Regions from separate parts of the Homo sapiens genome. Here region 2 is reported to be linked to region 1. Evidence: microRNA targets listed by miRTarBase, many of them from high-throughput screens and not tested one by one. Region 1 holds a microRNA gene; the other region holds the end of a gene's coding sequence.

What was found. The annotated mature microRNA hsa-miR-30e-3p reads CUUUCAGUCGGAUGUUUACAGC and lies in region 1 at 1,528-1,549, shown strand. An mRNA with a match to its seed (bases 2 to 7 or 8) in the 3' UTR can be bound and repressed. Matches are read on the target gene's strand: a 7mer-m8 pairs with bases 2 to 8, a 7mer-A1 pairs with bases 2 to 7 and ends in A, and an 8mer does both.
Region 2: miRTarBase lists RIMOC1 as a target of hsa-miR-30e-3p. Seed matches in the 3' UTR shown: 7mer-m8 at 1,035-1,041.

Annotation. Positions count from the first base shown.
Region 1 is chr1:40,752,886-40,755,968 of GRCh38, forward strand. It overlaps MIR30E (microRNA 30e), which reads left to right and starts at 1,470; the gene lies at 1,470-1,561. NFYC (nuclear transcription factor Y subunit gamma) reads left to right here. Exons shown (of 10, transcript NM_014223.5): 5 at 266-361.
Region 2 is chr5:41,917,004-41,920,086 of GRCh38, forward strand. It overlaps RIMOC1 (RAB7A interacting MON1-CCZ1 complex subunit 1), which reads left to right. Exons shown (of 6, transcript NM_175921.6): 6 at 13-3,083. The coding sequence ends at 296. Among named protein-coding and RNA genes, the nearest start is that of FBXO4, 6.7 kb to the right of the region's middle. RefSeq lists an enhancer at 1,344-1,503.

The DNA of each region.
Region 1 (3,083 bases):
TCAAGCAGGAGTAGCAGTGGTTGGAGGCTCAGATACCCCATTTTACAGTGTGAGTTACATGTATCTCTTTCTTTTTTGTTGATGGTTGCCCACCAGGTCTGATCATTTAAAGTATATGAGTTTGGCTGTGCTTATTTCAGCTGTAGACTTGCCCGTAGGTGTTTAGTTTGGCTTAAAAGTCGTCTTACCTTACTTGGAGGGTATAAAGCCAAGTGAACTAGTTTCTCCCCAGGCTAATTTTTCACACCGCTCTTCTTTGTTACAGAGAAATGATATCGCCATGGCAATTACAAAATTTGATCAGTTTGATTTTCTCATCGATATTGTTCCAAGAGATGAACTGAAACCTCCAAAGCGTCAGGTGAGCTGTGAAGGGATTGCAGTTGCTGCTGACTGAAGAGCGCTTTGTATACTGGTGTCAGATACGCTCCTTCTCTCTCAGCACAAGTCATTTGCTATTCCTTTTGCTTCTCGTTTCTAGACCAGATTCATTCTTAACATCTCCTTCTGTTACTCATTTCTGGATACTTTTAACTCAGTGCCTCCGAAGTGGTATTTCAGTGAAAATAGACAAAATGAAAATGAAAGACTTTAGTTACAAATGGTAAAGTTAAGCTCATTTCAAGTTATCTTAGGAAGTCTATCAGAGCTCTTCATCTGGGATAGGAGAATATTCCCAGAAAGTTATAGATTTTAGATTTTTAAGAAACAGCTTCTCTATGTGCACAGTGGCATTTGGAGTGAATGGACTATGTTTTCTCTTCCTCTATATTGTGGTTCATTATATCTTTATATAGTACCCTGACTGCACACTAGAATCACCTGTTGGGGTTTTAAAAATATCAGCGCCCAGGCTCTAACCCACATCAGCTGAATCAGAATCTCATGATGGAGCCCAGGCATCAGTACCTTTTAAAACTCCCTGGATGCTTTTAATGTGCAGTCAGATTTGAGAACCACCACTTGAGCTGTTTTGCAAGCAATCACAAGAAAGAATATGAACGTCTGCCTTCCCGTCTCTTCTGCCTGCCCCTCTCCAAAGGTCACACTAGTTGTTTTTTCAGCACCTTGGGTGCATATAGCTCTTAATTGTGATTGTAATAGACCTCTGTCCTTTAGAGCTCATTGTTTTAAGCATGCAGATTGCATGATTCACTAGGTGCCACTTGGGAAATTGTGGCAGAATCTCACAGGAGCAAAGCTGTGCCTTGTTCTGCTTGCTTTGTTATATAAAACTTTATTTTTAATGAATTATTTCATAGTATATTATCCTTAGAAGCAGTCATTCAGTGACAGCCATTCTCCCCATCCCAGCCTGTATTAATAACCAGTCAGAGAAAGTCTAGGAGAAGTGGGCATCCTAATGAACATTTGTAATTCTGACCCTGCATGAGGGCCTTTGGATTAGCAAGCCCTCTGTCACCTCCTTACTAGAGTAGGGTGTGCCTCACTGCGTCTCCGTTCTTTCTGGGCAGTCTTTGCTACTGTAAACATCCTTGACTGGAAGCTGTAAGGTGTTCAGAGGAGCTTTCAGTCGGATGTTTACAGCGGCAGGCTGCCACGGTCGTCCCCAGCTACGCACCGGCTTTGAAACATTGCAGGTTTGTGCCCACAGGCTCAATTCCTCCTCTTGGGGGTCCTTCCCTCCTCTCTCAGAAGTCACAACAAGAACTCAGGCCATTTATCTTCCTTCAGAACAAAGAGTATCATACACCTGCTTTCCTTGTTGAAATTGTTTTCTCCTTTTGTCTATCAGAAGCCCCCTTTAAAACAAGATTGTGAGCTCTGTGATGAAATCAGGCCTTGCTCACTCTCATTGTGCTAACTCCTTGTTTTCTGTGGGCTGCCTGCTGAATACACTGGCTGGAGAGAAGGGTCACATCCTGTCAGTTCCTCCAAATTCCTCAGTGCTTCTGGGTCTCTCGGGGTGTCATACAGCTCCTTATTCCATCTTAGCCAGACTCAAAATGCTATGATCCATCTGATTTTAAAGTGTGTCTAGCTGAAACAGCTTCTTGTTGCTTGGATTTAGTTCTTTGTAGGTGTTCGAGGCATTGATTGGCATCGTATTCGGGACAGCTGCTGCCTGGCCTTTGAAAGGTTGAGATTGCTGAAAGCTGGCCTGAAATTCTAAGATAGCATTTTTAATCCTCTGTAGACATGAAGTTTTCCCAGGCTTCAAATTGGCTGGCACCTCCTAAAGTCCTTTAAAACGCCTACTCTCCAAAACCCACCCTTTCTGAAGGAGGCAGCAGTTCACTCTTGCTACTAAAGCGAATGTACTTTTTTCCAGTCAGGGCTGGTTGCACAACACTGTAGAGATGGCCCTAGGATGTGATGCTGCTCTTCTCTGGCACTGTTCGTCAGTCTCAGCTTCTGGAAAGATTCCAAGAGCAAGCCCTGTAGTTGGGGAGGCCACTGCTAAAGTTGAGCAAGTGCCCCATTCTGGATTGATCCAGTCATTAAAGCATTGTTCTGCCACTTGGGGCAACCTCCCACTGCTGGGAAAAGGAACTAGTCAGAAATACTGAATTGTGAGTCCAAGGCCCTGACTTCTCAAAGATACTTGAGAGTTTCGCTTGTTCTTCAGAGAAGCAAGTAAAGATTATTTGAAGGTAGGAGGTAGTTGAGGCCTGACTTCTGCCCCACTAAAGCTATTGAGTTGAAAGTTCCTGCCCATTGAAATGTCATTATCTTTTCACCCATTTCTTTAAACCAAGCATAATCATTTCCTTGCTGGCTTGACCTCCATTGGCAGAATGAGTCTTCATAATGCAGAAGAGCCTTAGATATGCCTTCTTCCATTCCAGTGATTTGAGAACAGTTGTGCCTTGTCCTAACAACACAAACCTAGGTGCCTCCACTTGATTCTCAGTGTCCTAGATACTGTCTAGTTCATAAACAGTTTAAGAGGATGTAGTAAGCAGCATAGGAGGAGCTCTTGTCCTGCTCTCACAGCTTTTGGCAAGAGATATTTTGGGTTCTGGAAGGGGTTTTTAAAGGGTTTGCTTTTTGTCTGACAAAAAGATCATATTCAATACTAGATCAGCTGTAGTTGGGGATAACTGGAGACTAAACAATCA
Region 2 (3,083 bases), not on the chromosome of region 1:
TGACTTTCCCAGGAATATTTAGTGACATTCATCTGCTGGCTATGATGTACAGTGGAGAAATGTGTTACTGGGGATCGAAGTATTGTGCTGATCAGCAACCAGAAAATCATGAAGTGGATACTAGTGTGTCTGGAGCGGGCTGCACTACATACAAGGAACCCTTGGATTTCCGAGAAGTAGGAGAAAAAATCTTGAAAAAGTATGTATCTGTGTGTGAAGGACCCCTGAAAGAACAAGAATGGAATACAACGAATGCAAAACAAATTTTAAACTTCTTTCATCATCGCTGTAACTAGTAAGTTCATCTAGTCCTTTTCAAATAGAAAAACAACAAAACCCATGAAATGGAAAAGAGAGTTCCAAAAAAGAAGACCTGTTGATACTGAATATGAGAACATTACACTGCATAAAGATATCCAGCTTGGGTACCCTACTAAAACAACATCACCATCTTTTTCATTATATATTAGTAAACCTATGAAGGGATGATTCTTTAATTTCTAAAGTGTTGTTCAAACTCACCTTAAAATACAGATGTTATGTCACTAATAATGAGTAGTAACCCAATTTAGCTTTACAAAGATTTTTTCTATTACTTTTTTTTTTTATTGTGGTATATGTAACACAAGTTTACCATTTTTATCATCTTTAGATTATTTTTAAATCTCACTACCTTGAAGTTTGCCATGCTTCAGAAATTAAAGTCAAGTTACTTCACTGCTTTGAATACATACTATGGATATAAATGTAGGCAAAATGAAAGATTATGACTAATATTCAGATTCCATTTTCAATAAGGTAAATAATGAAAGATCTCACAAAGGAATCATTGTGTTTAATTATTTTGCCATGTATTACTAATTGTATTTAAAATTTCTACTTCCCTTAGGCATTTTATAAAAATTTAAAAATTATTTTTCTATTTTGTTTAAAAGACAATGCATGGCTTTTCAAGTGAGTAATGAAGATAAAAACCAAGCTAGGTTAGTCTACCATTAGTTCATATGTTTTTGTAGCACATCTTTTCATAACATACTGAAATTTTAATGTTTTTTGCCTTTAATAATAGGGGTGAGTGTTAAAGGCCAGAGAGCCTAACTTGATATCTTGCTCATGGTCTTTCTGTCTACCTCAACTCCTGTTGTCATCTTTGGATGATCTTTCTGATACCTTGCTGATACCTTGGACTTCTGCCCAGTGACTTTATTACATTCCAGCAGCTTACTCCCGTGGCCGCACTTTGAATGTCACCACCTTGAGTTTCTCTTTCTGGTAAAATTTCAGTAACTGATAACTGCCCTCTTTTCAGTTTTTTCACTTCCTTATTTTATTGACTTTTCTCTCCTTTATGCTCATTCCACATTCTTCAGTTCCTTCTTACCCCCTTTTCTTGACTGCTCCCCTTCCTCCTAAACTGTCAGCCCCTTTCAGGCTTTCTTCCCTATCCACCCTCAGCTTTATGGGATACTATATGAACTAATCTCACCAGTTATTCTTCTTTCCCTGGTCTTTTAGTCTAGTCCTTTGGCAAGCCCTCAACCTCAGATTAATCCTATTTATTATCTACCTTTTCGGGGATGCTGAGTTCTTTGTGATGGGTAGTCCTTCAAAGTAGAATCACTACAAGTGTCTCACTTCAGCCTTAGAAAAGCCCTCAATGTAAACCTTATGTTTGTTACTAGGGTGGCCTCTCTCCCATTTCCCGCTGTGGCTGAGCCAAACTTCATTACTTTCCTTAGGCCCTCTGCCCCTCCCCTAGCATATGGCTCTTTCTCCTATTGAACAGAAAATTGAGACTATGAAGAGGTCAACTTGTATTTACCAACTTTACTCATTTTCCCATTTTAGAGGAAAAGAGGTTGCCTGCTTCCTATCAAAGGCGACTCTGTGCTACATGTTGGTTTCATCTTCGCTGTCTCTCTCATTTCCCCACAAAGTGTTGTCTCACTTTCTGCCTACCTTTTAGGTATTGATCTTCACTATATTTTTTTCTCTCTCTCTCTTTTTTTTTTTTACTTTACATATTTTATACAATGTCATTCATAACTATGGCTTCTTTTACCACCTGTAATAACAGACTGAGTCTCAAACCTGTAACTTGTATCCTGACTTATCTCTTGCTTTCTAAACCTTGTTTCTAACTGTCTATCAAATATCTTCATTAGACATCCCACAGTAATTTTAAGCTCAGTGTTTCCAAACGTCAAGTCCTCATCTGTTATATAAAATCCTTTCTGCTTTGTAAGTTTTCTCTTTTTGGGATTTTCCGCAGATCAGGGCAACACAGAATGACTACCTTCCCAGCCATGTCTCTGCAGTCATCCTGTGTAATCATGTTCTAGTCCAGTGTTGCTCAAACAGTTAAAATCCAGGCTGCTTTTGGTAAACATACAAATTCTGATATAGAGCCTCTGTGGCAAAGGGAATTTCTCAGTTCCTGCCCCAGCCCCCTTGTTTATCATTACACAGCTAAGATTTTTATTTAACTTAGCATTTTAGCAAGTTTTCTTATGAAAATACCTTTGTGCTTTCTAAGTATAAAGATTTAAATTATTTTTAATACGGTTTTTAGAACCACAGACTATCCCTCTTTTTAGAGCATCCTGATCAATTGCAAGTACTTCCACTTCTTCCCTAAATGCGCTTTGTGTGTTTTCCACCTCAGTAGCCTTGCACACATCATTACTTCTGCATCCTTCTTTGTGACCAAGTGAATACCTACCTACCTCTTAGGACTCAGCTTCAGTGATTCTGTTTTCATAGGCTTTTTAAAGCCCTTTTCAGTCAAATTAGATGCTCCTTTGTTCTGGTCCTTTACTCTTCCCCTCCCATGTTGTCGCACTGATCACACTGCTTTGTAATTATTTTCTTTATTGTTGGTAAACTCCATATTTTAAAAATTTACCTGTATACATAGTGCTTAATGCATGGTAGGCCCTTAGTAATGTTTTTGAATTAATGAGGCATGATTCTAAATGCCAAACTTTGCACAAAAAGTTGTTGCTATTGGATTCCAAACTGCTATGCCCTCTATACCAGTGGCTGACAAGGCATATAGGGATATATGCCATCCTGAGAGGAGT